Linked DNA regions of Homo sapiens. The protein of the gene in region 2 purifies or fractionates together with the protein of the main gene of each other region. This does not show direct contact. Each region holds a gene or a part of one and is shown on either strand. Other genes may lie near its edges.

The links.
Region 1: the proteins of C4BPA (region 2) and TUB purify together in Homo sapiens (affinity purification with mass spectrometry; one large-scale study listed by BioGRID and IntAct). This does not show direct contact.

The regions. Positions count from the first base shown.
Region 1 is NC_000011.10:8,098,063-8,101,717, reverse strand, and holds part of TUB (tubby protein homolog), read right to left. Parts: exon of another isoform or gene 2,961-3,655; coding exon 2,843-2,960; exon of another isoform or gene 2,379-2,842; intron 1,216-2,378; coding exon 1,117-1,215; intron 893-1,116; coding exon 721-892; intron 233-720; coding exon 99-232; 3' UTR 1-98. UniProt on the Homo sapiens protein: Functions in signal transduction from heterotrimeric G protein-coupled receptors. Binds to membranes containing phosphatidylinositol 4,5-bisphosphate. Can bind DNA (in vitro). May contribute to the regulation of transcription in the nucleus.
Region 2 is NC_000001.11:207,121,167-207,124,821, forward strand, and holds part of C4BPA (C4b-binding protein alpha chain precursor), read left to right. Parts: intron 1-2,755; coding exon 2,756-2,841; intron 2,842-3,008; coding exon 3,009-3,200; intron 3,201-3,655. UniProt on the Homo sapiens protein: Controls the classical pathway of complement activation. It binds as a cofactor to C3b/C4b inactivator (C3bINA), which then hydrolyzes the complement fragment C4b.

The DNA of each region.
Region 1 (3,655 bases), on a different chromosome or scaffold from region 2:
GGAAGGCCTATATACAGAGGATAGGCAGGGCTGTCTCCACAGGCAGGCAGGCAAGCTCCGCTCCAGGCTGGGCAACCCCAAAGGGCACGAAGAGGCCTCTACTCGCACGCCAGCTTGCTGTCGAAGCTGGACAGGGCAATGGCAAAGGCCTGCAGTGCACACAGCGGGTAGTTGTAATCCATGGTGAACACATCCTCTGCTACCCGGCCAAACTGCATCACGATGTAGTCCGCTGGGGCCAAGCACAGGCACAGACAGAGAAAAGGACAGGACAGGAATGGTAGAGCCAGGGAAGGATAGACAGACACCCAAACCACATGAGGGAAGAACAAGTGAGAAGCAGAGATGCCAGGGGAATCACAAAGGGAAGTAAAACAAAGGCCAATTGGGAGAAGTGGCAGGAAAGAGGTGGCAGATGGCAAAGGACAAAGTAAGATGCATGTGAACACCAGGGGACAGAAAAGAGGAAAAGTCCTTTTAAAGGGTGTTCCCGTGCCTGAGACTCCGTTGAATACACAGAATCTAGGACCAGGGCTGCAAAGAAGGTTCTTCCAGGACCTCCCAGTCATTAGGGTTAGAAAGTTCCATACATCTAACCTTAGCTGTATAGCTCACATTCTTAAACTCTAGCCAGTGTAGGCAGGGCTAGGTGGGCTGAACCCTACGCTAAGGGCCTTGGGTATCCTACGGACCATAATGAGTAGGGACAGAAACACTCACGGTCATTGCCATGGATGATCTGGAAGTTCTTCACGGAGGCCTGTGTGACGCGCCCATGGAAGTTGAGTACATAGGACTGTGTGTCATCATTCCAGACAGGTGTCTTGTTTTGCAGCTCGATGATACTCTCCGTGTTCTTATTCTGCCAGCGTGCTAGCAGTGTCTCATGCTCCTGGGAGGGCAGCCTCACCTGAGCCAGGCCCAGGCCTTTGGCACCATGACCACCCCAGAAAGGGATCTATCCCGGGAATGGGGGTCCTTGGATTTCCCTAGACCTCCAGGGCTTTCTCACATGGTACCCCTCCACATACACACATCAGCTGGAGTTCTGCCCTTAGAAGCTCATGCAGAGACTAGGATGATGGGGAAAGAGGGGAGGAAGGGGTAGACACTCACGTTGCGGGGGCGGATAGAGACTCTCTCATGAACCATGTTCATGCCTGGGACAATCACGCTCATCTTCCGAGGCCCCTTGAAGCCTAAGACGTTTGTCTCCTGGGAAAGAGAACGCAACACTGGCCACCTGAGGCGTCTATTTACCTACTGGAGAAGGTGGGGGGGACGGGAATAAAGAGGAAGAGCTAGTTCCCACCATCTCCACTCCGAAGTCTAACACACATCCCTCTAAACCTAACACGGCCAGAACTGAGCCCCTGGGTCTCTACCCTGCCAGAACTAGCTCCTCTTATGCGTCATCCTTGCTTCTGCTCACGGCAATGCTGTTCTTCCACTCGCTCCGGCAAACTACTTGGTCACACTCGAGTCCTCTCTTCTACATCCTACGTCTAATCCATCAGCAGTTTCTGTCAGCTCCACCTTCCAATTATACCCAGACTTCCACCACTTTTCACCACTAGCTTCTCTCACCAAGATCATTCTAACAGCCTTTGCCTGGACTCCTGGTTTCTGTTGTTGGCCCTCCTATTCCTCCTTCCCACCATCTGTTCTCAACACAGCAGCCAGTGCTCAGGCACATTAAGTCAGATGATCTTTCTCCTCTGCTCAGAACTCTCCAGTGGCTCTCCAGCTCACTCCAAGTTAAAGCTGGAGATGTGACTTCACCTGCACGTGGCCCCATGACCTTCCTCTCCTCACCATTTACTGCCTGGTATCCACTCCATTCCTTCTTCATGCCAGGCATTCAGGACTTTTGTCCTCACTGTGTCCCCTAGACACGTACACTGCTGTTTTTCACTTCCTTCTGGTCTTTACTCAAGAGCTACCTCAGTGACGCCCTCCCTGCCATTCTGAAATTCTCACACATACCTTGACATTTCTTATCTCCCCTCCCCTACTTTTTCTTCTTAGTGTTTATAAAGAACATACTTACTTCACTGATAGATCTGTTTCATAGCTTGTCTGCCCTGCTAGGGCTTTAAGTCCCATAAAGGTATACATTTATGTCTGTTCATTACTATATCCTTAGTGCCTCAAACAATATGCTTAGTTGGAGCTCAGTAAGAACTTGAAGACTCAGGCTGCCTCCCCAAAACTGGTCAGCAGGTGGCACCACAGGATCATACAAAGTAGCTGTGGATTACTTACTGATGGCCTCCAAGAAGTGCCCATGCCCAGGTTGATGAGATACCCACCCCTGATTTTAAAAATGAAGAAAAAGGTTCAAAGGGGTAGAGTAATCCCCTATATTTATATTCCAGTTTGGTCGTTTTTGAGCTGTGTGACATCTGCAGCTGAGCTTCAGTTTCCTCATCTATAAAGAAAATAGGATCTACCTCTTAGGTTGAACGTTCAGTGAGATGACAAAGTGCCGTGTAATCCATGTAGAACCTGGCATGCCAGAGGGATGATCTGGGAAATGCACAGACAAGAACCCAGGGCGACCGTCTCCTTCTGTCTAAGAGACTCCTGGCCTGGACTGCAGAGAGCCAGGCCTGGTTTTCTGAGCTCCCCAAGCAGATGGCCGGCTGTGGTGTGAGCTCTGAAGTCAGGAGGAGAGAGCCAGAGCCCCTGTCCTAGGCCAGGAACACTCCACAGAGGACAGCCCCTCTCCACACAGCCTTGTCTACCCACTAAGATGGATGGGATAGCCCCTAGATCAGGCATCAAGTCCTGGATTTCATATCTACCTTGGAAATCAGAGACCCCCGAACCTAGGACTCACGTAGCACACAGCTGCCAGCTCCTGACGTAAGGTTCCACTTTCCAAAGTGGAGGATGAGGCCTTCTGAGGGTTGACTCCATTGTCATAAACAGTGAACTTGGTGCCCATCAAGTTGGACCTGAAATAAAGGCACAATCAGTATAGAGTCATGCACCCTCTGCCCCAGAGCAGGGAACAGCTCATCGTCTGTCCTATGAGGAGCCTGCAAAACATTCTGGGCTGGAACAGGAGCAGGCCCAGGGAGGCATACTGCTCACTGAATCCACATCTTTGAAGACACTTCGTGGGCAGAAGGCCTGGACTTGCTCTGAGTTGACTCAAAGTGCATTTCAGTTCAGTGAGAGCAATTCAGGGAGGTCAATCAGGATTCTTCAGAAGATTTATCTGGGGGAACATGGGAGTTCTCCTCATGGGAGGTGAGCAAACAGAATGGCATCTGATAAGACAGTGGAAGAGGCTTAGCACCCGTGGAGAGAGGATGAGATCTCCTCTGTCGCAGCCAGCCTAAGTCTCAGTCCAGCCCCATCTCCAGCTTTAGCTCCTGACCTCTCATCTTTATTTATGCTCCCCAAATCTGGTACTCAGTTCCTCAGCAAACCCTACCTCCCCACTGCCCCCACCTGGAGGCCTAGGCTCAGAGCCTTCCTGCCCCTTCACCACTGCCCCCCACCCCCAAGATTGCTGTGTGTCTCTTCCCTCAAGAGCTCACTCTCAGCCCTGTCCCTTGGCATTGACCATGGAGCCAAGGCAACTCTTCCATGGTGGCCTGCGTTATCAGTGACACCCTGGGGTTGGATCCATCACTCTTGGTGG
Region 2 (3,655 bases):
TAAGCATGAAGATAGGAGTTAAAGTAAATTAATAATTTTATAATTATTTTAACCATTATAAAATAATTTAATGATAATTAGCATATTTTGATTATTTTTCTTGTCTCATATACTTCTGTTTTATTAAAATTGCTGCTACATACATATTTTGCTACATAAAGATTCATAGCTCTTCACTGAAAATCAAAATCTTTAACATATAAAGTACCCATTGTGTGTCATTTAATAATCTTGGTTCTGATGTCCAACTTATGGGATATTAAAATTATTATCTTTGGTTTTCTTTTGAATTTGCTTGGTATAATTTTATGCTGTCTTTTATTTTTAATCTGTCTGAAACACTTTTAGGTTTGTCTCCTGTATATAACAGAGCTGAATTTTCTCCAATTAAAAGCTGTTTTTCTTTCATTAGGAGTTTACATTTATTGATGTGAGTGATACTTATAGACTTGGTTTTATCATATTATTTCATATTTTGTTATATATGTATGTGTATATTTATTTTCTATTAAAAATATATGGTGGTATTTAGGAAGGTTCAAAATTTGTTTCTAGTGGTGACCTATATACATTTAAATTTATATAATATCATTATTCCTCTTTATCTTTAGACAGTTTAAATTGGTTCCTTGTTATAAACAACAATAAACTTATCTTGTATTCTTACCCCTCCTTCACCCCTTCTATCTTCCCTACCAGTAAATTTGTATCATTTGTATTATCTTAGTGTTTATTTTGTATTTAACATTAATGTGAAATATTCATATGTGTCTATGGTTGCTTTCATTCTCAACTTTGCAAATGATCAGGCAATAAGGGAATTTATTTTACCCTCTCTTCCCTGTCTCTATTTTTTCTTAGTTATACTATTTCAGTGCTGTCTGAGCATATAACATTTATATTTCCTTCAGTCACACTTAAAATCACATTTGTTTTTTCTTAGATCTGCATGTACAATGTTTGCTACCATTTTTGTTTATTTTGGCTAAAGTTGCCATTGTCATCTCTTGGTTGGCTGTAGTTTGTCCTATGGTGGTTTCCAAAAAAAAGTCCCAAGTGAAAATTATTCTTTGAGTTCTTGCAGGTTCAGATAATATATCTGAGGCATTGATACCTAGAAGATAATGGGGCTTGATATAGTCCTTGGCTCATCCTTTCTTTTCTTGGATGTCTTATAGGTACTGCTGCACTATCTTTTGCTAGTGAATACTACTGATCTGAAATTTCTTCTCATATGGCTTGATCTTTGTTTGACTATCTAAATTATTATTCTTTATCTTTGAAACCTAATACTTTTACTCTTAGTTGTTTTGGTAGAAATCACTTGGTTTAATTTTTTGCTACTATGTGATGTGCAATTTTAATATGTAGATTGACGTATTGTTTTATTTTAGTAACATTTACTTGAAATATATATATTTTTTGAGTCAAGGTCTCACTCCCTTTGCCCAGGCTGGAGTGCAGTGGCACGATCATAGCTCACTGCAGCCTCAACTTCCTGGGCTCAAGCAATCCTCCCACCTCAGCCTCTCAAGTAGCTGGGACTACAGGAGAGCAGCACCATGCCCAGCTGATTTTTGTATTTTTAATAGAGATGGGGTTTTGTCATATTGGCCAGGCTGGTCTTGAACTCCTGGTCTCAAAGAATTCACCTGCCTCAGCGTCCCAAAGTACTGGTATTACAGGAGTAAGCCACCACACCTGGCCTGAAACAAATTTTTAAAAAGCTATTTTGTTCTACTTGGATTCCTTCTTTAGGTTATCCAATTAAGCCTATGTTGATTCTCTTTTGCTTGTTACCTATATCTATTAGTTTTCTCTTATCTTTTCCGTTTGTTTCATTTTTGTTGATTTTCTCATTTTTATCCTCTGTTTTCCTTATTGTGTATGGCTTCCATAAGGGAAAGTGAAAAGAATCAGAACTAAGATGCTGTTGAAACACTAAGGTGTTCCCATTGAAACAACCAGAAACAATATTTTGCACTTAGTCTCTGGGCTAGGTTGGAAAAACTACATTTTAAAGAAATTTTAAAGTAAAGAAATACTTAATTGTAGTTGTAGTTGAGATATATTTTCTTGAAGTTATTATTCAATAAATTCCACAGGCTCTTAGATTGCTGAAGGTGACATTTGCTTTAGTGTTCTATCACATTGTAAGTTTATTCCTTGATGATGCTACAATTTGATATCATTGATGATTATCAATATCCTTGATGATGCTACAATTTGTAATCATTCATATCTTTTGTTTTTTTCTGTTAGCATAAGATAGAGGGCAGGAAGACGAACTGAGGAAAGAGTAGGACATATCAAGAGCCGTAAAAATGGAAGTGGTGAACTGAAAGCTAATGATGTATGGGAATAAGACACCCACCTGGAAGTCAGAGGAAGCTTCAAGCCAAAGATGGGGAGATTGTGGACTCAGTAATCTAGCTGGTACTCTCACCCAGAGACAACCACAGAACACGCTGAAGCCAGCCTTTTATTGTTGTGCTTGAGCTCTGGATGAACTGCATTCCTGATCCCTAGTAGATGCTCAGTAACAGATTAAGGAATGAGGGTCCAAAGGAAAAAACACACGCATCTCATTGCAGTAATGAAATTTTACTGAATGGAGTGCTTAATGGGAAATGATATCCAAGAACATATGATTTCCTTATTTTAATATTGAGTAACAATTCTATTTGCTCAGACCTCTTTAATTTAATTTAGGGTAGGAGGAATTCCATTAAAATCTTTGATCTATCTTATTCAGATTTTTCTTAATTGGCTCAACCACTAGTCGTTGTGAAGTCCAAGATAGAGGAGTTGGCTGGAGTCATCCTCTCCCACAATGTGAAAGTAAGTAAAGACTCTTCTGACTTGACTATCAATTTAAACTCTGTTAGGTAATAAAGTCCCTGTGCATCTTTACAGGTATGTGTACCTTCCATTAGAATTTGCATGAATTTTAGATTTATCATGATGCCTTCGCTGAGTATTTCTTTCTCTTCACTCACTTACCTCAGTTGTCAAGTGTAAGCCTCCTCCAGACATCAGGAATGGAAGGCACAGCGGTGAAGAAAATTTCTACGCATACGGCTTTTCTGTCACCTACAGCTGTGACCCCCGCTTCTCACTCTTGGGCCATGCCTCCATTTCTTGCACTGTGGAGAATGAAACAATAGGTGTTTGGAGACCAAGCCCTCCTACCTGTGAAAGTAAGTCATAATGATGAATTCTGCATCAAAATGTTTGCTCTCTTTTGTTTAAAAGAGAAAGAAAGGTAAATTTATTGGGGGGCAAATGGAAAATTCAAAGATAAACTAACTATCGCTCTGATGCAATCATTTATTTGGCCACCTGATACTTATTGCATGTTTGTTTAGAATATAAAAGCCATAAAAATGGGAGTGGTGAACTGGGAGCTAACAGTATATGGGAACAAACAGCAACAACATCTCACTGGTTTGGTGAAGTAAAAGTTTATTCTCATTTACACTGAGTTTGTTCCATGTCCAGGAGACTCTCCAGGGCAGCCGTAGTCTGTGTTAGCTTAGCAACTAGCTCAGCAAGCCAGGTTGCTTTGATCTTATGGCACCTCCATTTCAAAATGTGCCTTCACAGTCTCTTCAGTAGACGAAGAGAGAAAGGCCAATTGTGTCCTGGCTAAGAG